7 linked regions of the Homo sapiens genome follow. The protein of the gene in region 3 purifies or fractionates together with the protein of the main gene of each other region. This does not show direct contact. Each region holds a gene or a part of one and is shown on either strand. Other genes may lie near its edges. The genes, in order: PTPN14, STARD13, DENND4C, GAB2, RASAL2, KCTD3 and SRGAP2.

Evidence for each region.
Region 1: the proteins of DENND4C (region 3) and PTPN14 purify together in Homo sapiens (affinity purification with mass spectrometry, with the first as the bait; one large-scale study listed by BioGRID). This does not show direct contact.
Region 2: the proteins of DENND4C (region 3) and STARD13 purify together in Homo sapiens (affinity purification with mass spectrometry, with the first as the bait; one large-scale study listed by BioGRID). This does not show direct contact.
Region 4: the proteins of DENND4C (region 3) and GAB2 purify together in Homo sapiens (affinity purification with mass spectrometry, with the first as the bait; one large-scale study listed by BioGRID). This does not show direct contact.
Region 5: the proteins of DENND4C (region 3) and RASAL2 purify together in Homo sapiens (affinity purification with mass spectrometry, with the first as the bait; one large-scale study listed by BioGRID). This does not show direct contact.
Region 6: the proteins of DENND4C (region 3) and KCTD3 purify together in Homo sapiens (affinity purification with mass spectrometry, with the first as the bait; one large-scale study listed by BioGRID). This does not show direct contact.
Region 7: the proteins of DENND4C (region 3) and SRGAP2 purify together in Homo sapiens (affinity purification with mass spectrometry, with the first as the bait; one large-scale study listed by BioGRID). This does not show direct contact.

What each region holds. Positions count from the first base shown.
Region 1 is NC_000001.11:214,369,561-214,374,018, forward strand, and holds part of PTPN14 (tyrosine-protein phosphatase non-receptor type 14), read right to left. Parts: intron 3,280-4,458; coding exon 3,151-3,279; intron 132-3,150; coding exon 1-131. UniProt on the Homo sapiens protein: Protein tyrosine phosphatase which may play a role in the regulation of lymphangiogenesis, cell-cell adhesion, cell-matrix adhesion, cell migration, cell growth and also regulates TGF-beta gene expression, thereby modulating epithelial-mesenchymal transition.
Region 2 is NC_000013.11:33,104,819-33,108,335, reverse strand, and holds part of STARD13 (stAR-related lipid transfer protein 13), read left to right. Parts: intron 1-1,401; coding exon 1,402-1,578; intron 1,579-2,625; coding exon 2,626-2,743; 3' UTR 2,744-3,517. UniProt on the Homo sapiens protein: GTPase-activating protein for RhoA, and perhaps for Cdc42. May be involved in regulation of cytoskeletal reorganization, cell proliferation and cell motility. Acts a tumor suppressor in hepatocellular carcinoma cells.
Region 3 is NC_000009.12:19,334,526-19,338,983, forward strand, and holds part of DENND4C (DENN domain-containing protein 4C), read left to right. Parts: intron 1-25; exon of another isoform or gene 26-143; intron 144-451; coding exon 452-580; intron 581-1,744; coding exon 1,745-1,889; intron 1,890-2,160; coding exon 2,161-2,307; intron 2,308-3,075; exon of another isoform or gene 3,076-3,147; intron 3,148-4,458. UniProt on the Homo sapiens protein: Guanine nucleotide exchange factor (GEF) activating RAB10. Promotes the exchange of GDP to GTP, converting inactive GDP-bound RAB10 into its active GTP-bound form.
Region 4 is NC_000011.10:78,221,705-78,226,162, reverse strand, and holds part of GAB2 (GRB2-associated-binding protein 2), read left to right. Parts: exon of another isoform or gene 1-960; coding exon 961-1,055; exon of another isoform or gene 1,056-1,091; intron 1,092-1,433; exon of another isoform or gene 1,434-1,553; intron 1,554-2,486; coding exon 2,487-2,751; intron 2,752-3,635; exon of another isoform or gene 3,636-3,967; coding exon 3,968-4,058; exon of another isoform or gene 4,059-4,383; coding exon 4,384-4,458. UniProt on the Homo sapiens protein: Adapter protein which acts downstream of several membrane receptors including cytokine, antigen, hormone, cell matrix and growth factor receptors to regulate multiple signaling pathways.
Region 5 is NC_000001.11:178,439,745-178,444,202, forward strand, and holds part of RASAL2 (ras GTPase-activating protein nGAP), read left to right. Parts: intron 1-1,804; coding exon 1,805-1,903; intron 1,904-2,930; coding exon 2,931-3,485; intron 3,486-4,458. UniProt on the Homo sapiens protein: Inhibitory regulator of the Ras-cyclic AMP pathway.
Region 6 is NC_000001.11:215,618,346-215,622,307, forward strand, and holds the end of KCTD3 (BTB/POZ domain-containing protein KCTD3), read left to right. Parts: intron 1-540; coding exon 541-725; intron 726-807; coding exon 808-946; intron 947-1,711; coding exon 1,712-2,273; 3' UTR 2,274-3,462; downstream 3,463-3,962. UniProt on the Homo sapiens protein: Accessory subunit of potassium/sodium hyperpolarization-activated cyclic nucleotide-gated channel 3 (HCN3) up-regulating its cell-surface expression and current density without affecting its voltage dependence and kinetics.
Region 7 is NC_000001.11:206,461,499-206,465,654, forward strand, and holds the end of SRGAP2 (SLIT-ROBO Rho GTPase-activating protein 2), read left to right. Parts: 3' UTR 1-2,938; downstream 2,939-4,156. UniProt on the Homo sapiens protein: Postsynaptic RAC1 GTPase activating protein (GAP) that plays a key role in neuronal morphogenesis and migration mainly during development of the cerebral cortex. Regulates excitatory and inhibitory synapse maturation and density in cortical pyramidal neurons.

The sequences.
Region 1 (4,458 bases), on a different chromosome or scaffold from region 3:
AAGCCCGTGGTTGCATAGCAAACAGAATCCGTTCGAAACTTCGTGGTGACCTTGAACTTGCCATAGGTGGCTGAGCTGTGCTTTGAACCTAGTTTGGGCCAGTATCGGTGGCTTTTGGTTCGTCCACCCTCCTAAATCACATATAAAAGCAAAATTGGAAATAGGTCAAGGGAAGCTCTCATCCTTTTAATCCTAAGATATGAAGACAGAAGAAAATGCAAATAGCTTCTAAATCGCTAGTTCAGTAGCACTCTGCAGTGTCTACCACAGGGTAGATCCTATACATGCTAGTTAAGACCAATAACACAATTTACAATGACAGTTACATCAATGGAAAATTTAAAAGATTCACAACCGAGGTGCAGTAGAATGTTAGAGAGAAGTGCAAGTGCAGTCTAGAAGCAGGAACAAGCTTCGTGCATTCAAGAAACAAAGGTCAGCCGGGCGTGGCGGCTCACGCCTGTAATCGCAGCACTTTGGGAGGCCAAGGCGCGTGGATCACAAGGTCAGGAGATCGAGACCATCCTGGCTAACATGGTGAAACCCCATCTCTACTAAAAATACAAACAATTAGCCAGGCGCGGTGGCGGGTGCCTGTAGTCCCAGCTGCTGGGGAGGCTGAGGCAGGAGAATGGCATAAACCCGGGAGGCGGAGCTTGCAGTGAGCCAAGATCACGCCACTGCACCCCAGCCTGGGCAACAGAGGGGAGATTCCATCTCAAAAAAAAAAAAAAAAGAAAAAAGAAACGAAGGTCTTCGGGGTGGCTGGAGTGTGACATGTGAGGGGCCAGGCGATCAGAGAGGAGACTGGAAAGGCCTCACAGTCCATGGTGGAAAGTTTGGATTTCATCCCATGGGCACGGGAAGTCATTCAAAGGTTTTAAACAAGGCGGGAAGGGGTTCCAGCAATCGCTGTAGGTCACGTTACTCCTTTCGGATGTTCAGCGCACAGCTCTTTCTGTTACAGCACACTGACTACCGATGCTGTCTTTATCTAGTGTCGATTTCACATTTGTTTCAGCCTGACCAATGCGTTTTAGTTCAATCTACAACTAGAACTGAGAACAGCTGCTTACATCACCATTCTTTCTCCCTTGATTTTATAAACTTTTCTGAGAATATGTATTCTCAACCATTTACACAAGGTCTATGTTTCAGCTTTGCACCGTTTTAAAATCTCTGGAGAAGGGGCGGAGTGTGGAGGAGGTGGTAGCTGAGGAGATTCAGGGCAAGGAGTAGGTGGTGAGAGAGAAGGAGCACTGAACACATACAGCTGCAGTGGTGACAGGCTCTGGGAACCCTGATGGCTGTTTACAGGAACATTAGAGTTCCTCTTGTAAAGCCCACTTGTAAAGCAACACATCTTTGCGGAATATGTAAATTACCTTGCCTGGCTTCATTTGGTTTAATTGAGTCTCCTTAAATTGGAAGCATACCTTCCTCTTTTATTTACCAATCCTGTGAAAGCAGATTTACCTCGAATTTACATTTCTGCTGAGTGTCTAAATCAGTTATGGATTTTAAAAGACTATAAGTCCCCAGCTGTCCCACAGATTACTAGATGCTACTTTGTCTTGGCAAGGCTGGCTCCTTGTCACTCCGGTCTCACCTCCAATGCCACTCCCTCAGAGGGTCCTTGGCCACCCCCCTGATCTAAAGTAGACCCCAGTCACTCTCTTTCTTAACCCTTTTTCCATTTTTAAAAATTTTCTCCCTTGAATTTATGCTACTATTAATAAGGTTTTTACTTCCAGCCTTCCAGCAAGTGTGCAACATGATACAGAGCCTGGAGCTCAGGGTTGCACATCGTGAAGCCACCCTTTAGTAGGAGTCCCCTAGCGTGAATGACAGTTTTGCAGCTGAAACCCACACAAAGAGGAGGAGGGATGAGGCAGGAGGACCTGTACTCACCCAGACCCACTCTGGACTATAGTTTTCCATTTCTGCCACGGCACTTACTGCTATCTGCACTGATTTTATCTGTTCACTTTTGAATGTCCCTCCCACTAGGACATAAGCTCTATGGGGACAGGGATGGTGCCTGTCTCGTTTACCGTGTACTCCTGAAGTTAGCACAGATGGTATGCTGTATTTAGGTGAATGAATGCCTTGCAATGGTGTGAGCTGATAAGGTGATAAATCTATTCTAGAAGCTTTAAGGAGGATTCATTCTCTTTGTGGGAAGGTCAAACAGGTCAGCCCAGGGAAGTACAACTGGCTTTAAAGAGCCTGATGTCCCTTTCATTATTTTCTTCTAATGGACTGTGCTGAGAAGCAAATGCTCAACACAGTCAATGAAGGAAAATATGACTTTTTCCTCCCCAATTTTCTTTGTTCCTGACCCCTTTAACATAGCTAGGAAAGGCCACTGCAATACCATGGATATTGGTAAACACACATGAAACTAGTCCCTTGAATGATTTCAAAACATAAATTGGAATTTAATGAAAGAAATAAAAGAAGGTGGTTAAAGAAATTTTGAGAATGTGACAAGAGAAGAAATACAACACTTCTCCCCACAAAGACAGCAAGCTCAACACCGACTGGATTGACTGGCAGTGTAGGCTGGTTTTTTATAACATCACATAGAGTTCTCTAGTTACAGCAGAAAAACTATGTTTGGCTTGGCAAAAGAAGAAAAAGATATTTTTTCTTCCCCCAAAGAACAGAGGACTCTCCAGGAACAACGGCTTCTGGTCTCTTTTCAGCTGATAAGGATGATGGCATGTGGAGCTGGGTGCCTGGAGTTGGGCGTCTATGTCGATTTGCCCAGAGCAGCCTGAGACTCCCAAATTCCAGTGGAAAGATCACTGTTTTCGTTTGGCACAGAAAGTCAGCAGGTTGAACTAAAGTCTGTCATTTTTGGTTTTCTGTTGTTTTATTTTCAGTTTAGTGCATTACAATCCAAGGAAAAGAGTTAAAAGCCAGATGAAAATGGGAGGAGGAAAAGCTACAACAATCAATTATCTCCAGGGGAAAAAATATCTATCTGGAAGTAAGAAAACAGATGTATACCAAAGAGAAAAGCATGTGCAGAGAAACAGCACTGCAGGAAGAAGGATAGGGTAGCAAAGTTGACAGCACAAAGCCCATCTTCTGGCCACCCTTTCCCCTGGGGAAAAAGGATGTGGAGTAGGCCATTCCCCTTACCTCCTCTGCAGTGACCATGGCAATCACATTCACTCCCTGCTCCCACACCATCTGCCAGAAGTCGTGGCACGTGTGTGGCAGGGGCCCCTGGGTGGCTATGTAGTGCCATTCTGCCCCGCCAACCACCACCTAAAAACCAAGAAAAGTATCGGTAAATAAACCCCAAGTCCGGACAACATTACCTGCTGATCACCTGTCCATCTGTATCCACCTTAAAACCTTGGATATATTTTTGGGGCCGAATGAATTAGTTCAATGAACAAAAACCCTGAGACTACAGAGGCTAGTGTAGTGACACATTCTCACATGAAAATACTTTTTGCCACTCAAGCCTATTAAATATTTATCTAATCCTGGTTTTTGAGACTGAGTCTTGCTCTGCTGCTTAGGCGGGAGTACAGTGGCACGATCTTGGCTCACTGCAACCTCCGCCTCCTGGGTTCAAGCAATTCTCCCGTCTCAGAATCCCAAGGAGCTGGGATTACAGGCACTCGCCATCATGCCCGGCTAATTTTTGTATTTTTGTAGAGATGGCGTTTCACCACATTGGCCAGGCTGGTCTTGAACTCCTGACTTCAGGTGATACGCCCATCTCAGCCTCCCAAAGTGCTGGGATTACAGGCCTGAGCCACCAGGCTTGGCCTTTACCTGATCTTTGTTTGCAACTCACAGTATATGCAAACTAGTGCCTATTAAAAACCATACACATACACACATGTATAGATGCATATATATGAACATGTATAACTTAGGATTTACTTGTTACAGAAATAATAGTTACTGCTTACTATGTGCAATGTACTCTAACACTTTCCATTCTTTTCTCTTTTCTAGTCGATTTCATTGAAACACACACACACACACACACACACACACACACACACACACACACACACACCTGGTCATGACCACTAAACTGATTTCACATTCTACCACTGTGTTGTAATCCAGTTTGAAAAGCAGTGCTTCATGGCATCCAATTAAACAATAAAAAAAAAAAAAAAGATCATGAAACAACATCCCTTTTGGAGCACTATCTTTCTCCTGTGGATCTGAGATGAAGTGTATCATAAACCTCTGCTGTCACTGCTGCTCTGTGGTGCCATGCACGGCAGAGATGCTACGAATGCTCTTGTCAACAGCATATATTTTATCAATAGCTTCACCTTGGTAGTACCACAGCATCCAACTGAACTACAGTCATGACATGACTTTGGATAATAAAATTATTACCCCTGCAGCTCAGGGTGATCAGGGGAAGATAATTCTACAGCTATAAATACTAGCTGCTGAGAACCATAAATAAGA
Region 2 (3,517 bases), on a different chromosome or scaffold from region 3:
GTTCCCAACAACAGGAATTCCTTATGTGTAGGATACAAGGAGGTGGAAAGTGATGAGTGTGGTGAGGAGGCACGGGGCTGAGATGCCTCCTGTCTTCAGAGCATCTTACAGTCTAGGCTAGCATGTATGAGGCTGGTCACCTTTCAGGATTGCTGCATTTGTCTCTCATGTCACACCCATTGCTAGCTCCTCGGGAGCTTCCGCTGAGAGTTGCTGGAGATTCTCCCATTTATCCCAACAAATCTCTACAACTTTCAGTCGTCACGATTTATCACATCTTCGTTCATGAAAAGAGTAGTCACAGCATGGAAGTCGCTGAGCATTTGTGTGGGGCTTGGTTATTCCCAAGTTCTTGTCAAGCACATATCACCATTTCTCTTCCTGGTGTAGGAGGACAGGGTGAAATCATGGAGGACATGACTTAGTAAGGGAATAGAATTTGTGGAGTAAATCATGGGAATTCTAATAATGCAATCTATTATGATAGATCCCTGGGGTAGAAAGGGAAGTTAGAGGTTGTTACAGAGATGTTCTCATAGCTCCTGACTCCCATCCACAACCTTTTTTCAAGGGGTAGCCACCTCTGCTTGAATAGCTCTAGGAACAGGGAGCTCACTGCCTCCCAGGGCAGCACATTTCATTTCTGAACAGTGCACATTGTTAGACAGTGCTTCTCTCCTGCACAGAAATGTACTTTCCTATCTCTGCCTTCTGGAGTCAAATCAACCATATTCATTTCTTCTCCCACTCAAGAGCCACTCAAGTATGTGAAGACAATAAGCAGGCCCACATATGTTTCTTTTCCTTCAAGCTAAGCGTACCAGTTCACTTCTCTTTGAGCATGCCCTCCTCCAGGAAGCCTTCTCCATATTCCTCCCGCAGCCCCCTCTATGTGATCCCAGAGCCCTCTGTGCATAATCTTACCAGTGCATTTACCTCAGTGCTTTTAGAATTCTGTTTAGAGTGTCAGTATTTTTCCTCCTGGGCTGTGTATATCTTTATGTCCTTGGTGGCTTCTCAGAGACTGGCATGTCTATCTGCTTAATTGATGTCTGCTGAATGAATCGAATGAGTGAGTTCTAATAATAAACTGTAAAACCACCTCTTCGAGAATGGGCAGGAGCCTCTGCAGCTAAGCAGAGCTGGGGATTCCAGATGCAGATCTGAAAGCTGCAAGACCATTTCTGGCCTCACAGTCCCAGAGCTGAGATCCTTGCTTTGAAATTCTCTGTATAAACTTTACACAAGCTTATGAAAGCCATTAGCTTAATCCAAGTCACTAGCATTGGAATCTGAGCCCAGGTTGTTGGCAGGAAAATATAAACACAAACCTTAGCTCTGTGTTCAGGTTCTTCTTCCTCCCTCAGTCATGACTCTGATGTGCGGATTGTTTTGCTACAGGACCTGGAAAACTGATTTGCCCAAAGGAATGTGTACCCTGGTGTCCCTCTCCGTGGAGCATGAGGAAGCCCAGCTCCTGGGTGGTGTGCGAGCAGTGGTGATGGACTCGCAGTACTTGATAGAACCGTGTGGCTCTGGCAAGTCAAGACTGACTCACATCTGCAGGATAGACCTGAAGTAAGTGCTGACTCCCTTAATGGCAGGCTCAGATCTTGGGAGTCTCAGCTTGTACAGCACATCCAGCAGGGATGTCACCCTGATTTCTTATTTCACTGTATTTGTTTCCTCATTGCCATTAGTGTGCTTTCATAGGTGGATATGTATGCCTCCCCTCTGTCTTTCCCCCTTTCCTGAAATTCTGACATTTCTCCTGCAACTGTTTGTCTTTCTTTATTTTCTGTTTTATGCCTACTTATATTTCTGTCTTTCTCCCATGAAACACACACCAGAAACAGAGCCTGACACATAGTAGGTACTCAGTAAATCAGAGTTTCCCTCTCTTGTGTTTCTTTTTGAGACAAGGTCTCACTCTGTCACCCAGGCTGGAGTGCAGTGGCACCATCAGGGCTCACTGCAACCTCCACCTCCTGGGCTCAGGTGATCCTCCCTCCTCAGCCTCCCCAGTAGCTGGGACTACAGCTGCCCACCACCACACTCAGCTAATTTTTGTATGTTTTTGTAGAGACAGGGCCTCGCCATGTTGGCCAGGCTGGTCTCAATCTCCCAACCTCAGGTGATCCGCCCACCTCAGCCTCCCAAAGTGCTGGGACTACAGACATGAGCCACCGTGCTCGACCATGTATTTCTTTTATGCCTGTCCCCTTTTGCTGCTCCCTCTGGTAGTTCTTTGAGAAGTAAGTAACTTACATCCAACCCCTTCAAGGCATTCATGATGCTAAACCCAGTTCTTGGTCTGGGTAGACAAAACGGAGTTTTCACAGTAAATTCTGGATTTCATCTGAATCTTTTCATTTTACCCCAAGATGTTGGTATCATTTTAAAGCACCTGATGAGTACTCAAATGACAACATGAATACTTAGCAGCCAGGACGTTTTCAAGGCCCCTGATGGCAGAATGACGTCCTGAGCCCCTCAAGGCAGCAGCCCGAGCTGTCTGCAGGTTCACTGGTCATCGGGGCCCAAGGGCAGCCCTGTCCACCAAAACTAATTGCTGTGATTTGGAAACAAACTTTCCCACTTCCTTTCTGATTTCTTTCCCCACAGAGGTCACTCCCCAGAATGGTACAGCAAAGGCTTTGGACATCTGTGTGCAGCAGAAGTTGCCAGGATTAGAAACTCTTTCCAGCCCCTCATTGCTGAGGGCCCAGAAACTAAAATCTGAGTTTTGCCCAGTGTGACATCAAACTCAGGGAAGAGGAAGCTAAAGTGACGAGTGTGGCAGAGAGTGTGCATGTGAGAAAGCGAGAGAAAGAGGAACTGAAGGACGCGGTTAATGCCTAAAAATGGAAACGTTAAGAAGTTGGAATGTTGGAGATGCAAGAATTTCCAAGAACTTTCTTAGCCTTCCTGGAGATGGCTACATCCCTACTAATATAATTTTAAAATGAGAACTTTATATATATTACTTAAAATTAAATGGACTATTCCTTGTGCATTGCCTAATTTGCTATTTAAAGGCTTCTAAGAAGCGTATACCTAACTGTAAATAAATGTATGTATAGCATATGTACATATGTGTGTATATCTCCATCTTTACTGTATATATGTAAAATACCAATTTTATATAGAATTGTGTGTTTTGAAAATGACGGTGTCTGACTCAGTGAGTCCCTTCCTCACACAGTTCTTTCCAAGTGGCTCTGGGCCCCATCTCTCCACTGTCCTGTAAGCTGTGCAGAACCTGCTGCTAACACCAAGGTGTGAACATGCCCTGATGCCTAACCAAAGATGAGTTAACCAAAGGAAAATAACATTAAAGGAGACTTATGTGTTAACGCTTTGTTTCTGCTATTCAAAAACTGAGAGTGGAGATCTGGGATAAAGCAAGGAAATAATAATTACTCCTCCTTAAAGCAAATGGGGGGGTGAGAAGTCATTACCAAATTTAAAGCTAGATGAGGAGTTGCCACTGGGCCCAGTAAGATGGAATTTCAGT
Region 3 (4,458 bases):
TTTTTTTCTTTTTTTTTTGAGACAGAGTCTCACTCTGTTGCCCAGGCTGGAGTGCAGTGGCGTGATCTGGGCTCATTACAACCTCTACCTCCTGGCTTCAAGCGATTCTCGTGCCTCAGCTTCCCAAGTAGCTGGGATTACAGGTATGCACCACCATGCCCATCTAATTTTTGTACTGTTAGTAGAGATGGGGTTTCACCATGTTGGCCAGGTTGGTCTCGAACTCCTGACCTCAGGTGATCCACCCGTCTCAGCCTCCCTAAGTGCTGTGAGGCGTGAGCCACTGTGCCCAGCCTGAATAGGTCTTAAAAATAATTTGCTAAGATGCTCAAAGCAGAACAAAGGAGAAAATACTGCTTAATAACTTCATGGAAAGAATTCAGTAAAATCTCTACAATTCACAGATAGATTAGTATACTAATTACTGACACTGATTTTTTTTTTTTGTTAGGTGTGCTATCGAGTAGTGATGCAGCTTTGTGGACTTTGGGGTCATCCTGTTTTAGCAGTGAGAGTCTTATTTGAAATGAAAACTGCTAGGATAAAGCCTAATGCTATTACTTATGGTTATTATAATAAGGTAAGTAGGATCGACATTAGGCAAGATGTGGTGTTTATTAAGAATGATTATTTTGTATACCTTTAGTTATTCATGAAACTCCTATTAAAGGAAGTTTTGGGATATAATTTTTTAATAATTTTTATAATTATTAAAAATTGACAAAAAGTATATATATTTATCATGTACAATATGATGTTTTGAGATATGTATATTGTGGAATGGCTCAATCGAGCTATTAAATAATTAACATATGCCTTCATTGTTTTGTGGTGAGAACACTTCTAATCTCTTAGAAATTTTCAAAATACAATACATTGTTATTAACTGTAGTCCCCATGTTGTTCAATAGATTTCTTGAATTTATTTCTCCTACTGAACTGAAGTTTTGTATCCTTTGACCAACATCTTCCAGTGTCCCCTTTCCCCTTACCTCCCAAAGCCCCTGGTAACCATACTTCTAGTCTCTGCTTTTATGGGTTTCACTTTCCTGGATCTCATATATATGTGAGATCTTGCGGTATTTGTCTTTCTGTGCCTGGCTTATTTCACTTACCATAATGTCCTCTGGGTTCATTCATATTGTCACAAATTACTGGGTTTCCTTTTTTATTTCAGGCTGAATAGTATCTCGTTGTGTATATATACCACATTTTCTTCATCCATTCATACATTGATAAACACTTAGGTTGATTTCATATGTTGGTTATTGTGAATAATGCTGCAATAAACATGGGAGTACAGATCTCTCTTCAATATACTGATTTCATTTCTTTTGCATATCTATACCCAGTAATAGGATTGCTGGATGATATGGTAGCTCTAGTTTTAATTTTTTGAGGAAACTCTATACTGTTTGTGAGGAATCTTTTTAATGGCTGTACTAATTTGCATTTCCACCAAGACTGTGTAGGGGTTCTTTTGTCCACATCCTTAATCAACATCTTTTGTTTTTTTTGACAATATTCTAACAAGTATGAGGTGATAAGATATCTCATTGTAGTCTTAATTTGCATTTCTCTGATGTTTAGTAATGTTTAGCATTTTTTAATATACCTCTTGGCCAGTATAACTTTTTATATTTGTGTATATATATATATAAACATACACACACACATATATGTATGTATTTTTAAAATCAGATATTGCTAATGAACATTATTTTTACCCTTATTTTACCTTTAGGTAGTCTTGGAGAGCCCGTGGCCTAGCAGTACCCGCAGTGGTATTTTCTTATGGACGAAGGTACGGAATGTGGTACGTGGCTTGGCACAGTTTAGGCAGCCGCTTAAAAAGACTGTGCAAAGGTCACAGGTCTCCTCAATATCAGGTAATACATGTGATTAGAAATATAATTCCTTACTGAACCATGAGCTTTATAGGCATATGAATTTTTAGCTATGTGAAGTAGAAAACTTAAATTCCGGTAGACATTTTCACATACATTTAAAGACAGATTGTCTTAGTCCAAAATTATTTTTGTTTTTTTCCAGAAATTTAGAAAGTGTTCTGCAACTATAAATGAACTGTGGGTCAATCATGTTTAGTTTAAGAGATTATCAATGCATGAGTTATTGAACTGCTATTGTCCTTATCTTTAGCTCTTCAAAATGTCACAGGTGGAAGTGATGGGGACACGGTGAGCCACGGTAGTGTGGATAGTTCTAATGATGCTAACAATGGGGAGCACACAGTCTTCGTCAGAGATTTAATCAGGCTTGAGTCCATTGATAATCACTCTAGCACAGGTACTAAAATCCAGATTTTACTAACCCTTCACTTACTCTCATGTTAAATCTTTCCTTTTTCAAAAAGCTTCTTCCATTCTTGAGTTTGTGTGATATGACTACTTTAAAAGTACTGTATGCTTACAAGAGAAACAATACGAGTCTGCAGATGACTTCTGTTTATTTCCTATAGTACAAAATTAGTATGGGAGTGCTGTGCACAGTGCTCTAGCATGATGCTTCTTTGTATTTGTTTATCATTAGTTTGTGAAAGTGTATGCTATAATTAGGAATCATGAGCTAAGGAACTTGAAAATTAGTGACACAACTTGCAAATCTTTTTAAAAAATTAAATAGAAAATGTATCTTAAAACTTCAAGAGTATGAATATTAAAGAGGGAAGGAAGGAAGTCACACAATGAGAAAAAGTATTCTCTTTAAGTTACATTTTTTAAGATCTGAGAAGTTATTGAAGCTGCTTTTATGTACATAGCCATGGGAATAATCCCTCTCCTCTGAAGTTAGAAATAAGTGTAACTAAAGTAGCACGTTGTGCAGATATATGTGTGTTACATATCCTTCTTCTTGTGTTGTTTTTTTGTTGTGGTTGTTTTTAATATCTCAAGCCTTCCTTTAAAAAGAATTCTGGGTCTAATTCCTGTGCTTCATCTGATGAACTTGTCTCAATGACTGAAGTTTCCTTTTCTCTGCTCTTTGTTGCTTTGCTTTTTGCTCTGTGCTGTTTCTTGGTGCTGCATTTGTCCTTGGCTGTCATGGTGTGGGGTGCAGACAGACTTATATGACGTGAAGCTATGGATACACGTGTGCATTAATTCTACCCTTGAATGTTAACCACATCAGGTAATTTCCCATTTATTAGGTTAAATTTTGCTGACCTGCAAGGGTGGGGGAAAGACCTTTCATTGTATTTTAAGTTTGTTTTGAGTGGTAAACAGTTTTCATTTTCTTGCCTTTTCTCCTTCAGATAAATGTAATCATATATAGACTCTTGAAAATATCCAGCTAACTTTTTATGGTCAGTTTGCAAAGCATGTTTGTTATCTTATTTGAAAATATATTATGCCTTGCTAAAATTCTTATTTTGAGGTTGGTTTGTAGCATCAGTGTGACAAATAGTGTTATAGGCATTGAAGAATTAATTGTTTCAGCTGTTAAGGTGGTGTGGCCATTGCTTTCCAAAACTTATCTGCTGAATTCTTGTGCTAAAAACAACCTTCACATAATTACAGGAGCATGTGTAAATTTGAAAGTCAACATAAAGCTACAGGTTACAATCCTGTTTGTAATTAACTTCCTCAGTTTGCCATCATGTTTGTATATTATATTAACAAATAAGAATTTTTATGAAACTTTTATTTTAAAGCCACCATATTTTATTTCCTCTAGTATTTTTTTCATGATACTTGTAGAAGAAATGGGCTTCATGTATAAAAAGCAAAAAAATATATTTTTTTGTATGAAAACGTTTACCAGGAATAGTAATAGTAATACATAAACACCTTTCCCCTTATTCCTTCAGATTTTTAAGTTTACCTCATTATAGAGGCAATTTACTCCTTTAATGGAAATACCAATCTCCTAGTAATGCTGGGTAATTGGTATAAAGACTTCAATAGTTGGGCACAAACCTTCAGGTCCCCCTTATATATATTTTAGCTGCATTTCAAATGACCGAATGCCACATACTGAATTTGCAGTGATGGTGTGTCTCTGTAGAACTTCTGGCGATGCCATTTGATGCTTTTGGAGTCTTCAGCCCAGGTGCTTAAGTTGCTCATTTCATTAAGGATTATCTCGTGGAATCTTTCCACTTGGTACCTGGTACAGAGTCACTTAGCTGTTAGGGGCATGTTTGGTTTTAATTCACCCAGGTCCCAGCCTAGTGTTCATTTCATGGCACCACATTGCTTTACCAGACTTTTTGAGGGAGCTAGTAAAAAAGTGACTGAAGTTAGTCATTCTAAGTAGTAGTATTTAAAGACATTTAATTCTTTTGTTGTATGGCAAACCCAGAGTCTGAGTGGCAGTGTAATAAGTGATGGAAAATGGAGGTACTGCATATGTTATTTTATGTGTCTTTTATTGACATCTTTATACTGTTTTCTCTAGTACCTGATCTTAGTTTTGATTTTAAAGTATAGAAGTATAAAG
Region 4 (4,458 bases), on a different chromosome or scaffold from region 3:
CATTGTATTTTATTCATTTGTAAATCAAATCAAAGATTTAAAAAATAAATTCAGAAGATCAGTCCAAACTGGAGTGAAACCTGTGTGGACTAACAGACTGCTAAAGCAAAACGAGGTCTTAATATTTTCTAAATCATACTTGAATCTCTTTGGTTGAAGTCAAAACTTTTATTTGAAGTACCTAAATTCTATTGTTACTTGTTTTCCACTGAGAGTATTCCAACTCTGCATGTAACCTCCTCTGTATGATGAAAAAATAGAACAATATTAATTCCTTTCATTTTGCATCTTGCTTTATGGTTTGCAAAGCCTTTTCTTGTCCATCCTGTTGTTTAAGCCAGGCAGAGAGGTTGGTGGGACAAAACCTCCTTGTCTCCATCTCACATGAGGCCAATGACAGTTAAGAGACTTAAATAGAGTTGCAGAGTCATTGTGCCAGAGATGAGACTCAGACCCTAGAGTCCCAGCTCCTAGTTTAGACCTCTTTGCCGTCTTTCAATCCATCGACAATTTGAGCAGTCATACTCCGTTTTGGAACTGAGATGATAAAGACATACATAAAACATGTTCCTGCCCTTCAGAGCTTACATCTCATTGGGAAAATAAAACCAACACATATAAATCAGGACAAGTATTGTTACTGTGGTGTTCAGAGAAGTGATGGCTGGGGTGAGCAGGACAGGTGAGTGGTGTAGGAGTCAAAGGAGAGGTGCATAGATGAGGGTAGAGTAGTCAAGGACAGCTTCTCTGCAGATGCTAACACTGGAGCTACATCTAGAAGCCCAGGAGGAATTTTTGAACTGAGGAGTGATGTGTTCGAAGAAATTCCTTATCATTTGGGGTTGAGAGTAGTATCTTCTGGAGTATCAGTAAGACCTTGAACCACACTGGTGAGGGTATGGGTAAGTGTCAACACATGAATCAACCATGAGTACTTATGAATCCTCCTTCCTCTGTCAGCTTCTTCCTGTGAGACCTACGAGTACCCACAGCGTGGTGGAGAGAGTGCAGGCCGGTCTGCTGAATCCATGAGTGATGGAGTTGGCTCTTTCCTGGTGAGTGTGGGTTAACCCAAGGGTCCTCAGGCCGGCCTGGTTAGGTAAAAGGTCACACCTTATGGAATTAAAAGCACAACCCCAAAAGATTGATGGCGTCTCCATCTTAGGACCCTGCCCAAGTTCTTGTCTCAGTTCAGAACCCTGCGTTGAGTCTTTGGACAAGTAAGATATAAGTATTCTAGTCTGGAAGAAATGTATGTGCTAAGGTAGACTGGATTACAAGGTTCACCAACCTTGTAGGTAAGCAGAGGATCTAGAATGCAATAGACCCAGGCTGCACGGTGGGGGAACCTCTAAGACAGCAACCTTACCCACGTGGCCTCACATGCAGGAGGGAGGCTGCAGTGTGAGACTCCAGGCAAGGGTGGTACTCACAGTCAGGCTAAGTGGCAGAATTATGGCTTGAGTGCAGGATCCCAGGCTGCCCTCTGGAAGATGCTAACCGCAGTTCTCCAAGGTGTCAGGCAAGAAGACCAGGGCCTGGCTTCAGGCCCACTGAAAAGACAGTGAAATCAGGTAACCAAGGCAGAAGCAGCTTAGTTGTATGTCACGGCAGATAGAGCAAGAGTTAGAGGAAGGCTGGGATTGCTGTATCACACAACTCTGTAGAAGCTCTGACTGCAGCTTGGTGGTCCCCTAGGTGCCTGGAGTGAGCCCCAGGTACTTAGAAACCTGGACTGGGGAAACACAACTGGCCCCAGACCTCACCTTCCAGAGCCAGGACTCCTAATATGCTCCTTGTTCTGATCCAGGGCCTGAGATGCTGACCTGCCAGTGGTGAGTCTGGACTTGAGGTGGAGGGCAGGTCCTGAACCAAACCTACAGTCTATGGACTATGCCACCCACAGTGTTGGTCAGGCGTCCAGAAAGCCAAGTGGACCCAGTCACCAAGAATATTTTATACTCTAGATTTATCAAAAATTATTAGTGGATGCCAAAGGATCGTGAAGGCTTGAAGGGGCCCACAGACCTCATATATTCTTGTCTCCCACTCTGCTTCCTTTTTTTTATTTTTTATTTTTTGAAACAGAGTCTCACTCTGTCACCCAGGCTGGAGTGCAGTGGCATGATCTTGGCTCACTACAACCTTGGCCTCCCAGCTTCAAGCGATTCTCGTGCCTCAGCCTCCTGAGTAGCTGGGACTACAAGCATATGCCACCACGCCCAGCTAATACTTTGGATTTTTAGTAGAGAGGAGGTTTTGCCATGTTGGCCAAGCTGGTCTCGAACCCCTCACCTCAAGTGATCCACCTGCCTCAGCCTCCCACTACTCTGCTTTCTTATTTGGTCTCCCCAAGGTCTCCCTTACAGCTTCAAAGTATAGCTAACCCAGTCATGACTTGTCTTGCCTCATTTACAAAGTCTTACCCCCTTCCTGTTTCTTCTTGCTAGTAACAGCTGTATTTCTTTCACTGTTCCTCTCCCTAGCCAGGGAAAATGATTGTGGGCCGATCGGACAGCACCAATTCTGAAGACAACTATGTGCCCATGAATCCAGGTTCTTCCACCCTGTTGGCCATGGAACGAGCAGGTGATAATTCCCAGAGCGTCTACATCCCAATGAGCCCAGGGGCCCATCACTTTGACTCACTTGGCTACCCATCAACAACCCTTCCTGTGCACCGAGGCCCCAGCAGAGGAAGTGAGATTCAGCCACCCCCTGTCAACCGCAACCTCAAACCTGATCGGAAAGGTAAGTCCATTCTTTCCCCTGTCCCATCTCTGGACAGTGGCTAGGGACTCTTTCCATTTGCTTAGGGGTCATGTGGATCCTGGACTTGAGAGGTGTGACTTGGGGCAAATCATGTAAAATCTGAGTCTCAGTTTTCTTATCTGTGAAATGCAGATGGTAATTCCTACCTCCCAGGTTTGCTGCAAAGGAGAGCATCTAGGATAGTACTTTGGTACATAGCAGGCGTTCAGTAAAGTCAGCTTTGTGCCCCCTGCATGTAGACCAGGCAAGGTCCTCGTCTGCTACAATCTCACTCTCCTGGCATTGGATCAGTGGCAAGGATTCAAAGGGAGGAGTAGGATAGCTAGGCAGAGATAGCCCCCTGTGGGTCTGGCCAACAGGGAATTCAAATCTTAGCATTTGGAACTGAAGCCCTCAAGCCCTTATGGCATCTACCTTCCTCCACTGTGGCTTGCACCGACCTGGCCAGGAGCAGCAGGGAGTAGTCACGGTGACCATCTATACTTCAAATATGGTCTCTTGGCTGGGCGCCATGGCTCACGCCTGTACGCCTGTAACCCCAACACTTTGGGAGGCTGAGGCGAGTGGATCACCTGAGGTCAGAAGTTCGAGACCAGCCTGGCCAAAATAGTGAAACCCCGTCTCTACTAAAAATATAAAAATTAGCTAAGCGTGGTGGCAGGCGCCTATAGTCCCAGCTACTAGGGAGGCTGAGGCAGGAGAATCACTTGAACTCAGGAGGCAGAGGTTGCAGTGAGCTGAGATTGCGCCGCTGCACTCCAGCCTGAGCAACAGAGTGAGACCCCGTCTTAAAAAATACATATATGTGTGTTAATATATAAATAGTATATATTTTTATAAATATTAATATATTAATATATAAATATATTTTATATATAGTCTTTTATTTTTAAATGAAGTCATAAATTGAGGGAGAAAAATCTGTTGTCAAACCCTGTGTCCCCACTTTTGATTCTGAAAATATAATTACCATAGATACAGCAGAAAGAATATATAATTTGGAATCTGAAGACATGACTTCAAGGCTCATCAATATGGGCAAAGATTATACAACCTCGCTGAGCGTCAGTTTCCCTGTGTGAAACTGGAATGACTTTGCAGGCCTTTATAAACATGCTCATGTGTTATATATAAGGTGTGTATGTGTAGCATTATCATTACTGGCTGATTACCAGACTTTCTTTTCCTGCTCCAGCAAAGCCAACACCACTTGACCTGAGGAACAACACCGTCATCGATGAACTCCCCTTCAAGTCACCTATCACCAAGTCTTGGTCTAGGGCCAAGTAAGTGCGTATGTGTGGGGGTGGGAGCTTGGAGTCGGGCCATTAGGGAAAATGAGTGATGTGGTAGCTGGCCTGTGGGCCGGGACAGCTGGATTCTGATGCTAACGCTATCATTAGCTGATCATGTCTCGATGTCTTGTGGCTTGGTTTCCTCAGCTGTAAAAGAGAATAATTATACCTGCCCTATATCAGATCTTAATCTGATGGAGTGTGCAGCTCTAATGGCTGAGGTCTGGGTGTGTGAGGGTCAGGGCCCAGCTGGAGGCTAGAAACATGGCAGCAGCCATGCAGCTTCCCCAGTGTTAACTCTTCCTTCCCACAACAGCCACACCTTCAACTCCAGCTCCTCCCAGTACTGCCGCCCCATCTCCACCCAGAGCATCACCAGCACAGACTCAGG
Region 5 (4,458 bases), on a different chromosome or scaffold from region 3:
ATATTTGCAGTTAAAGTTATTAAAGATAGCTTTGCATTCCTTTTGGCTTTGCCTCCTTTCAGTAAAATTTGATTCTTAGTACATTTTCATCAGGGGACAAGACTAACAATAACATTACATTACTATGTTAATTTTTAGTATTGGTAAGGATGTCACTCATCATGTTATTTTTCTAACCACAGCATCAGTGGTTCAAGATCTGAGACCATGTTTTTCTTATTTATCCATCCATCCATCCATCCATCCATCCATCCATCCATCCATCCTAATTCCAGGACATTTTGACCTAAATGTCTTATTTATTTTTGAAATCCCCTGTAACTAACCCAGACCCCAGCACATTGCAGGTGCCTGATTTTTGAATAAACAAAATTGCCAACTATCATAAGGTAATTTCTCCCTTCCAAATATGTACTACTAGCCAGTTACAAGTAAAATTCAAAAACTATATATACATGTATTTATACATACATAGAATTATTAGGGCTGAGATTTGATTAATTAACAAGAGCTTACTAAGTGACTACAGATGAGTCCTATACTAGATGTTGTAGAAGTCAAAAGATGTTTGTTTGGTTCCTCTTCTTATGGACCAGCACTGTCCAAAAGAAATATAGTACAATCTGCATGCATATCCAAAATATTATCATTTCAACATGTTCACTATCAGAGAAATTGTTTCCTTTTTTTTTAAAACTAAGTCTTCAAAATCTGATGTGTGTTTACACTTGCAGCACATCTCAATCTGGAATAGCCATGTGAGGCTAGTAGCTGCTGTATTGGACAGAGCATATAATCTGATCGGATTTATTAGGTTGTGACCAGAGATTGAGTTAATAAGTGAGCAGACTTCAGCAATTTGGGCAAGACATTTATTGGTGTTCTTTTTTATAAAAATCAGTTGAACTTTCTTGTATTTGCGGAACTCAGTTCATTAGGCTGTATATCAAGCCCAGAGTTAGGTGCTAAGTATATAACAACATATTTCATTTTTAAAGGACTGTGTTAATAGTGGTCAGGCTAACCTAATAAATGACTAGAAATCAACAGGCTGGTTGCGTAGTGGAGGAAAAATGGGTTCCAAAGATAGTAATTCAATATTAGTAACTCTTCAATTTCATTTAGCACCCTTCTATAATATAGTGAGGACAGTCTCAAGAAATCTGATAAGCTGTTTCAGAAACTCTCATCCTTTATTACCTATTTTTTACTAACTCAAAGTTGAACATATTTATTTGCAGGTAATTTAAGTTATTGCCTAAAAGGCCTTTAATTTTGATTTTTCTGAACCATAGGCCAGTTTTAATTTCCTTGGATGAATTTAAAATGGCCTTTGTTCTCATACCTGGAAATGGATGTGGATGCTACCTAAGCAAAAAGCAGATGTAGATGTAGATATAAGTATCGGAAAACTAGCAAAGATCATCTTAGTTTCTTATGGTATGATTTAGGTTCATAGCATATGTCTAACTCACAGCTTTGCATTCCTTTTGGCCTTGTCTACTTTCAATAAAATTGGACTCTTAGTACATTTTCGTCAGAGGATGAGACTAACAATAACACTAAATTAGTATATTAATTTTTTAGTATTGGTAAGGATGTCGCTCATTAGGTTATTTTTGTAACCACAGCATGAGTAGTTTGGGATCTGAGACCATGTTTTTCTTATCTATCCATCCATCCATCCTAATTCCAGGACATTTCGACCTTATCATTTAAGAGTTAGAGGTATGCTGTGAACCCTAATGACAGAGCCCTGAAATCCAGTGTTTTCTTTTTCTTATGTCTAATTTTTATGTTGAAGGTTACCTACTTAAGTGGAAGTAAATGCTTCAGCTGTAATTCTGCTTCTGAGAGAGACAAGTGGATGGAAAACCTTCGCAGGACAGTTCAACCTAATAAGGTAATAGTAGCTTCAAGTATCTAAAAAATGTATAACTTTGTAAGCAGTTAATTGATAGAAGGTAAGTGTGGTAGTAATACCTTAATTTGTCTATAGCTTGAGAGTTTTAAAGCACATTTATATGTTATGCCATTTGTAGTAAGCCCTTATTATATCACCATAAAGAAGTATCTGAGACTGGGTAATTTATCAAGAAAAGCAGTTTAATTGGCTCACGGTTCTGCAGGCTTTACAGGAAGCATGGTGCTGTTATCTGCTCAGCCTCTAGTAAGGCCTCAGGAAACTTACAGTCATGGCAGAAGGCAGAAGGGGAGCAGGCACATCACATGGTGAAAGCAGGAGCAAGCGAGAGAGAGAGTGTGTGTGTGAGTGACTTGGGGGGAAGGTGCCACACACTTTTAAACCACCAGATCTCACAGGAACTCAGTATCAGGAAGATGGCACCAAGGCATGAGGAATCTGCCCCCATGATCCAAACACCTCCCACCAGGCCCCACCTCTAGCACTGGGGATTACAATTCAACATAAAATTTGGGCAGGGACAACTATCCAAACTGTATTATCATTTTAAGCTAAAAGCAGTCTTACTGCAGATATTATTGCCATGGTTCTACCAGCATGGATAAAAGGACTCTGAAAAGTTAGGTGAATTGGCCATGTCAGAAGCTAGTACATGATAGAAGAGGGACTAGAATACGAGCTTCTTAACAGCTTATCTCTTTTATTTGCAGATATTAGACTGGTTATATGAAAACTTACCGTTACAAAATGATATTTTCTTAACCCAAGTAAATAAAATAGAATGAACTATATATAATATATATAATGAACTATATATAATTCTTCAAGATTCTAATGCATGCTTGTTTAGAGCTTGCTGTTAACCTAAGCAATGAGATAGCAATCCCTTTCATTATTTGTTGACTCCCCTTAATAGAGTACCTAATGAACATTGCCAACTTAAGAAAAAAATGTTTTTTTTTCTGCAATGTCAGCTCTGAAATTCAGCTTTGTTGCCTCTTTATAGGACAATTGCAGGCGAGCTGAAAATGTTCTTCGTTTATGGATCATTGAAGCCAAGGACCTTGCCCCTAAAAAGAAATATTTCTGCGAACTGTGCCTTGATGATACCCTCTTTGCTCGTACAACCAGCAAGACCAAAGCAGACAATATTTTCTGGGGCGAACATTTTGAATTCTTCAGCCTTCCACCTCTTCATAGTATCACAGTTCACATTTACAAGGATGTGGAAAAAAAGAAAAAAAAGGACAAGAATAATTATGTAGGGCTAGTCAACATCCCCACTGCCAGTGTGACTGGTCGCCAATTTGTAGAAAAGTGGTATCCAGTGAGTACACCTACACCCAACAAAGGAAAGACAGGAGGACCTTCTATTCGGATTAAATCACGTTTCCAAACTATCACCATTCTGCCTATGGAGCAATACAAAGAATTTGCAGAATTTGTCACCAGCAACTACACCATGCTGTGTTCTGTCCTTGAGCCAGTAATTAGTGTGAGAAATAAAGAGGAGTTGGCTTGTGCCTTAGTGCACATTCTTCAAAGTACTGGCAGAGCCAAGGTAAGTGGAAAAGGGGGATTGCAGTACCTGAAGTCTCTTCCCTACCTTTCATAAACCAAGATATGGATATTGTAGAAATCCAAATTAGAGAAATGTGCTTTACTATTGGTCAAAACAAGAAGAATTAAGAAGAAAACCTATTAGATCCAGAAAAGATGAAGATTATAAAACTAAACAAGTAAAATGGAGAGACCAGCAAATATTTAAAGCCAATTTGCATGAAACATAGATAACACAGCCAGCTCTTTCTTGTCTGACAAAATAAATGGTAGGATTGGCACGATAACCCTACAGCATGTTCAAGGTTCCTTATCTTTAATTTAGTTCTAGAGTGTTGTATGGTGGTTTTCTTCCTCACTGTATTTTATTTAAGTTTAACTGATGACTGTATCCTCTAGGCACAGAAGGAAGTATTCCAGAAGCATATTGAGTATTAGCAAGAGTCTTTGTGGGATTAAAATCTATATTTAGAATAAAAATCCAAGGGATATGATACAATTGGTAGCTGTTTCATGATACACTTATTTCACCTTGGATAGAAGTAAAAACTCAGGAATATTTTTTATTTAAAGGAGAAATATGCTGGTTGTGGGAAGAACAAAAACTAGTTGAGAGAGTCTTTGACCTATGAAGGATATTAACTAGGAAGAGTTACCGTTATACTGTATGCAAACTGGTCATGATAAAATTACATCTCAGATCCAAAGAAACTCACAGCTAGAATAATGTATTTAGAACCAAACAAAGTACTATTACTATTTCTTGATATGTCGGAATATATCAATATATTCAATATTTAGTCTCTTATCTGGCTTCTATGGATTATAACTTTTGTGTTTAAATTTACTTATGATAATCTTGGGCATTCTGTCATTAAAAAGCTTATGAGTTTGGAGCGAGGTGTCACTGAAATTTTGAATTGTATGGATATATTTCTACTTTTCAGTTGCTCAAGGTTCAGAATATACATTAA
Region 6 (3,962 bases), on a different chromosome or scaffold from region 3:
GCTTCATATTCTATTCCTGTATGCTTCTCAAATTCATGTGGATTGTATTTTTTTTTGTCTATTTTTTTGACCTTGCGTTTGCCTATACTGATTTTTCTTTTTTAATAAACTCCCTCAACTCTTTTGAAGTAGGCTGGGATAACTAATTCAGTCAAGTACAATTCAGTTAGCCCTTACGTGACTTTGGAACAATCATTTGCTGATGTTATCCCATTGTTTCCTGATCCGTCAATGTGGATAAAAATTGTTCTCTCTCAGGTTCTTTTATCTTTTATGAAAATCAACTAAAAAGTCATAAAAATCTTTTTTTGAAGTTGAGTATTATCCTAATGATGGATACAATATGGGCCATCTCCATAGAGCTGTATATTTTTTCTGGTTTCAGATTTTAAAGATTTACACATAAATTTTAAATGATTTTTTAAAAGTCTTTTCTAGTATAACATGTTTGCTTTCTTTCTTTCTGTCTTTTTAGTTTCATAGCTTCTTTTTAAATAATTGCTCATTCCCATCAGGGCTCTTTCTGCTTTTCTTTTGCAGAATATGTGAGATCCAGGCTGTTGACTGTACTACAATATCCTCATTTACAGTGAGGGAATGTGAGGGATCCAGTAGGATGGGCTCAAGACCAAGGCGCTACTTGTTCACAGGCCATACAAATGGCAGTATTCAAATGTGGGATCTGACCACTGCTATGGATATGGTTAACAAAAGTGAAGATAAGGGTAGGTTCTCATACAGAAAGATGTTTGTCACAAGGTTAAGCTTTTCACTTAAGTGATTTTAATGACTATTTGTTCTCCTAAGATGTAGGTGGTCCAACCGAAGAAGAGCTACTCAAATTACTCGATCAATGTGATTTGAGCACATCTCGCTGTGCTACTCCTAACATCAGTCCAGCAACTTCCGTAGTTCAGCATAGCCACTTACGAGAATCAAATTCTAGGTAGGTTAAAGAGTTGGGTATTATAAACAAAATTTATTTCTTTTGGGGAAATTGACTGAAATATTGTAATCACATAGTTGTTCTAGAAAGCCATACTTCTCAAGGTACATTTTAAATTCAGACATTATGTTAACTTTTTAACAGTTTTACCAAATTTCTTGATAGGCATATCTGGTTCTTTTCATAGAAAAACATTTTTACCTTTTAACTTATTTTGTGAATTGCTGCCCAATTGGAAGCCTATTATGTGATCAAGAATTTATTCAAAGGAAATTAGGAAAATTACATGTCACCTTGGTTAGTATGTGAAGCTTTAATTATTGTCCTGTCTCAGGGACAATATTTATCTGTGGTTCTATTATGTTGTCTAGTCTTACATTTAAGCATTATGTAATTTTAATACAAAGTTCCATAATGTCTTTTTAGTTATCATATTGATAAATTCCAAAGTCTGAAGAACCAAGGGCTAAATACTGAATTATGATGGTTTCACATTGGTTTCAAGGATTTTTCCTCCCATCTTTTTTTTAGCTGTTCAAAAATTCAGCATGTCTGTGAATATATGATGGTATTATTTGCATTGGTAATTTTATATACCATCTATATAATAAAGAGTACTTGATAAGTATATTTTTACAAAGAGAAATATGGATATAATACACTTTATGTATTTATATAGTGTGTTTTATTGGTTGTATAATTAATATGTTCCTGAGAAATCACAGAGTGAAATCTGAACTGTCATTTTTAAAAACTGTATTTCAGCCTTCAGCTTCAGCACCATGATACCACCCATGAAGCAGCTACTTACGGTTCCATGAGGCCTTACAGAGAAAGTCCTTTATTAGCAAGGGCAAGAAGGACTGAGAGCTTTCACAGTTATAGGGACTTCCAGACTATTAATTTGAACAGAAATGTAGAAAGAGCTGTCCCTGAAAATGGTAACTTGGGTCCAATACAAGCTGAAGTGAAAGGGGCAACAGGGGAATGTAATATATCTGAGAGAAAGTCTCCTGGAGTAGAAATAAAAAGTTTGAGAGAATTGGATAGTGGATTGGAAGTGCATAAAATAGCTGAAGGTTTTTCAGAATCCAAGAAAAGGTCATCAGAAGATGAAAATGAAAATAAAATAGAGTTTAGGAAGAAAGGAGGATTTGAAGGGGGAGGATTCCTTGGAAGAAAGAAAGTTCCCTATCTGGCGTCATCACCAAGTACTTCCGATGGAGGAACTGACTCACCTGGTACTGCGTCCCCATCTCCTACAAAGACTACTCCATCTCCTCGGCATAAAAAAAGTGATTCTTCAGGTCAGGAGTACAGCTTGTGAAAACTCACCAAAATGAATAGTTGTTTCGTTACATTTAGATGAAAGTTAAACTTTACTGAATTTCAGTACATTAGTTTTTACACTAAAACTTTACAAGATAAAATTGGACTTCATTTAGTATCTTTTTAACAGAATTACTTGGAATAATGAGATACAATAATCATATCTCTTTTGACATTTTGGAAATTTTTTTAATTTTACAAGTACATTTAACAGATCATTTATAAAGCAGGAGTCCATTTTAACACTTACCGACTTTTTTTGGTTTGGAAACATATTACCACGTCTTAATAGGATGGTGCCCATATAGGTGAGCATCCCTTTAGATCATGGGAACCAGCAGACTGCATTCCTAATCTTCATTATGCCTGAGACTTGTCTTACAATGTTACCTTTAAGTGAATCACATAATTGTCTTTGGAACTTGGTCTCCCAACACTTATTGTGATTGCAAAGTGTTTACCAGATATTTGATGAGGTGCTATGTTTGTGAAAAACATATCATGTAATTCAAAAACACTATTGATATTGAATACCAGATACCACTATGTAGTAAGTCTTTTAGGATGATTTTAATTTAGTCGTGCGTCATTTTCTGATTCTCATCATTGGGAGATCTTAAATCTTAGCAAGCATTAGCAATATTAAATGCCAAAATTCCATTGAAACTTTCAAGTTGGAGCAATTGTCTGTGTTTGAAAAGATGAAATAAAAATAATAATCAAGGGCAAAGCTTTGAGTGCCCAGAAGGGAAAGCTGTACCAGTTGCTAACCTGTCTTGTTTCAGGAGCCACCATGTTTTTTTTTCAGTGTTAACAACAATCATGATAATTAAATTAAAACACTAGTTTGTTCACTTGTAGGACTGCAGTTCTGAATTTTGGGTTAAAGGTTTTGGCTGCTGTAAGAATGTGAATTTGAATGTATTTTGAATTGTAAGAGCAAAAGAACGTTTTTGTACAATTTTTTTTCATTTAATTGGAATGATCTTCAGGTTTCTACAAATAGGGTAATTGTAAATTTAAAGCATTAGCATTTATTGGTGAATAATGTATATATCCCCATTCCAAGAAATATAAGTGAGTGAAGTTGAAATAAAATCTTTAAAATTTACTATATTGCCAGTGGTTTCACAACAGTTCTCTTGTATTTATTTATCAATTAAATCAAATAAAAATGATTATGTCAATGCGTTTTCAGTTATTTAAGTAACAGTTCTGTTTAAAGTGTGCTATATATGTTTGTTCATTTCTTTGCTTCTTCCCATAATTTAAAAAAAATGGGGGGAGGGAGAACTTAATATATGTGGAAAATAAGTTATTATCAATGAAAGAAAATATTAGGCAAAGCATAATTTCAAAATTACTAAGATTGTAATTATCTTACACCCTTCTTCCTCTTTATGACAGTTATGTGAAAGTTGGGTGGGCAAGTAAGAAAATGAAAGAAAAAACTAGACTCTAGTGACCAGGAATAAAAGGCCATTAAAAAGAAGATAGTAACTATTATGTAATAGAATCGCATAAAAAGGAAACTGACTATACTAGATTGCATTACAGTACAAGTCAAATCGTTTCTTTCTTTTGCTTACAGGAGATTGAACCTTGATGCAGTGGTTTATGTCTGTCTACTCTGACACTAATTTCTCAGATTGCCCCCATTATGCCTTAATTTTTTCATTATACCTAC
Region 7 (4,156 bases), on a different chromosome or scaffold from region 3:
GGGGACTTCAGTTGAAAATTAGGTTCTAAGTTGTTCTTGCAGGAATTAGCCTCCCCGTCTCCCAAAACCTTGAGAATGAAGCCCTTGGTATCGCCTCTCCCTTCCCACTGCCCTCTGCTTCCCCCAGTCGTCGTAATTCAGCCAGCTGCAGTCCGTACCGTTCTTAGGTTAGCCAGAGACAGGTTTTCATTATCAGGTCACTGTGAAATCTGGTAAGGCAGTCCTGAGGACATGGGCTCAAGTCTCAGTCCCCTCAGACCACGGTGATGCCTTGACCAGATGGTTGGCTACTGCCATCCAGCTTTCAGTGGCATCTTGTTTTGGGAACTGATTATAGAGAATCATATATAGTCCAGTCTTCATTTTACATACACACACATATTTTACACACACACACATTTTACACACACACACACACACACACACACACATATGTTTTTCTAGTCTCTGGCATGTGTAGCCTCTCCTGGTCATAGACCAGTCTCTTTGTAAGTTATTGTGGCAGTTCACACAGTAGCCACCAGGGGTCTCTGTTTCCATCACAAACTTTGTTCTGTCTGGGCCAGAGAACCTAGCCTTTGAAATCTCTCCATCATATGAAACATAACGGGATGGGACAATCCCGTAACCTGTTTGGGGTTGGGGGCTTTCTCTCTGTGTTCTTTCCATTGATGTGAATTGGTCATTGGTGTTTGCTCTTGCCTCTCCTCCATCCCCTAGAAGTACACCCCCGTCTTATTAAGGAGCTTTTAAAGTTTTTCTGAATGTATAGACATTTCTCGGGTTCCTACCTTTGTCTCTGATGGACCATTTTCCATTTAAGACATTTTCCTGTATAAGACAGTTTTATAGCTGGTTCCTTTTAGGGTAAAGAGTCTTAAGAGAGTTTTATTGTGTCTATGGCAGGTTTGGGAAAGGTAAGAAATGGGTCCTTTTTCCTCCTAATGTTTTTGGCACTTAAAACATAAAATTCATTATCCTATTAAAAAATTAAATTCAGCTTTGCTAATCCAGAAATTGTTCCCAAATGAAAACTTGTTTTAAGTCCACCCCTTAGTTTCCTTATTTTACAAGGTCTCTCTTCAGGGACCAACAGGGGCTTAGAGAGCCTTAGTTAGATTAAAGGGAGACCCTACCTCTTAAAACCAGTTTTCATTTATGCAAACAAGGACAATTAAGGGAACCCTGACCCCACAGGCTCTCAAGTCTTCCCAAGGCCAGAATCGAAAGAAAATTAAAATTTGAATGCTGAATATTCTGGCTCTACTCTGGCCTTTTTTCTGGTTCCCTTCCAAAATGCACAAATCATACCCTTGTCTGCTCCAATTCAGTCTCCAAACCTGGTGCCTGTGCTCCTGGCCCCCCTAGCATCATGCTATCCCAGGAGTATCAGGACCAGACACATCCACAGCCAGGCTCATGGGTCTCAGACAGCAACTTGAGTTAAAGCTGAAACTCATCCTTCTTCTCTGTGTTTTCTGGTTTAAAAGCTGCACTTATATTTTAGCCTTATTATTTTCTGTAGTTCCGGAGAGATGGTGGGTTGCCATTCTGGTAGGAAAATCTGAGTTTTCTTATCTTTGACCTAGAAGAGATTCTTTTTGGACCAACCTGCGAAATTGGTAGTTAGGTCTATGGAAAGTGGTAGGATTTTTTTTTTTTTAATCCTGTGCAAAGGAAAAGAGGTGCTTTGTGGGAAATCACTAATGAGAAGGCTAACCTGCAGCACCAGAGAAACCTTTCCAAGTGCTAGGCAGGAGAACTGAAGAACTCTTTCAGTGAAGTGAGTCAGCCTAGAAGAGGCAACCCACAGTCTTGATTTTTGTTGCTGTTTCCTGACCTGTTCTTGCCTGTCACCTGGGCCTACACAGGTCCCAAGCCAACGGGGCTTTCATACCCAAGGATCTGTTTCCTTGCTGAAAATGAAACCCTATCTTTCACTTTACATTCCTTTCAATCCAACTGATCAAAACTGGTACCCACACTTGCCCTTTCTCCCTCTCTCCAGCACACTCCCCTCTAAGAAAGTAAAAGCAAAGCTTTCTTAATGGCAACACTTTGGGCCTGTTCTGTTGCTCCTGCCTTATTTCTCTTTCAACCCTGTACATGACTCGTGTTCACCATCCCCTTGATCAGTGTCCATCCGCGCTAATTTGCATCATGAACTGAACAGTGTGTGAGTGGTCACCTACTAAACCCAGCTCTGGGGGCAGAGCTGTCTTCCCCATCTCTGGTGCTCCTAACACCTGTGAGATGGTCCTGTCGAGAGGACTAGGAACCGATAGGAGGAGAGTCCTTCTCGGCAGAGCTCACTGCAAACAACTGGAATTGAGGTTGCACACTGTGATTTTTACACCGAAAAGCCAAAAGGAGCTGGCCATCCAGGGCCTAGGGAGACCAGCCTTCCTCAGCTATGCTTGCCGAAACCAGCATGATGCTTCAAAGAGCCCTGCTCCACCCCTCATGGCATGGATCCTTTTCCTGGTGTGGACTCTGAAGGGTCAGTCTTCGGGGAAGAGAGGTGGGGTGGGGCTACTAGCATCCCAATTTAGAAAATAGAGGAGTTTGTAGCCAGCAGCCTGTAAACTGGAAACACTGGTCTCAGCCAACCTCCTCAGGGCGCCCTGGCTTCTCCCCAAGGAGATGAGGAGCGGTGATGCCAGCACCGGGATGCGCAGAGCACTGGAAGGGCTGGTGCAGATCTACTTCCCATGCAGAAGAGAAGTCACATCTTCCAGGGAATCGCAATGTTGTGGCGTCTGACTTGTATGTCACATTTGTGTAAAATGGTATATTCTTTAAAATAGTGTTGATAACTGGAATATTGTATGTATGCTTGGAGATGCTTTGTGTGAACCTAAGACTGTCACTCAACAGATGTTGGATTGGGGAAAATCCAAAGCACAACTTCAAAATAAAATACATTTTTAGGTTTCGATGCTGCAGTTCATATCCCTTCTCTCCTCTCTGAAATCTCTGATTCAGGACTCCAGCTGCCCAGGAGGGATTTTGATTCGTCTGTGCTAACAGAGCCCTGCCTGGCAACAGAGAGAGCAACGAGATGACCTTACAGCCAGCCACCTTCTCCCTCCCCACCAAGGCACAGCACACTTGCATTTAGAATGGGAGGTTTTTCCCCCAGCATTTCCATTTAGCCTGTGTGTGGATTCTCATAGGTTTTGTAGAGAGTCTTCCCGCTCACCATTGGACTGCCTGTTGCCATGAGAACCGTTTCCTTCACAGAATCCACCTTCCTTGTTTTCAATAAGGACTGTTCTCATTTCTATCTCTAGTCAGATTTCCTCACTTCAGGGAGTGGGGCCTAAGAAGTTGCTTAGAAACTTGGCAAGCTACAACCAAGGGTGACTAGAGATTCTCTTTCTTCCACAACCAAAGCCCTGAGTCATTCTGCCCTTGACAGCCCTCTGCCTCTGGGAGAAAAGCTGACCAATATGCTTGTGCTGTTGGTGGGAGTGGGGGATACAGGTGATGTTTTCTCTCCTACAGATTGTGAGTCTAGCAGAGCTTAAGTTCAAGGGTGAAGTTATTTCAAGGTAACAACTTCAAACAAATCCTAGAGCCCCTAGGGCCAACACTTATTTTTAACAGGCTTGTTCTAATAAAAGATGCCCCTGGGGATGGATCACATCTCTCCAAGTGGGTACCCTATGTTCAGTGGTAATGCAAGGAATCCTACCCCCAGCTCTAGACAGAACACTTTACAACCCCTTCTTAGGTTTATCATCCCTATCCGTTATTCATATATCTTCTATTCAGCTCTGCTATGCCCTTCCAGCCTACTGTCTCTTCCCTTCCCCTGTTTTCATGGAACAGCTACATCTTGAGCTTCTCTTGCTGGGCCCTTGGCCTTGGGTAAGTCAAGGCCAAGGCTGCTGTGCCACTCTGTGGTAGGAATGAGTTCTCCCTGACTGCAGGGAGAATGGGGATGGCCAGGAGCACCCCATAATAGCTGCGACATGGAGCCAGTTTGTAGGCTGTGAGCAGGGGACCAAAGAGCCCCTTTTCAGAGGGTCCTGAGGCAAAGGCAGGCTATGCTTTTTAGGTCCTCTTTATCCATATATGGTTCTTTTTATCTCATATGTCCTGATGGGGGCTGGATGGAAACTAGTGGCAATGAACACTGTCAAAACACAAG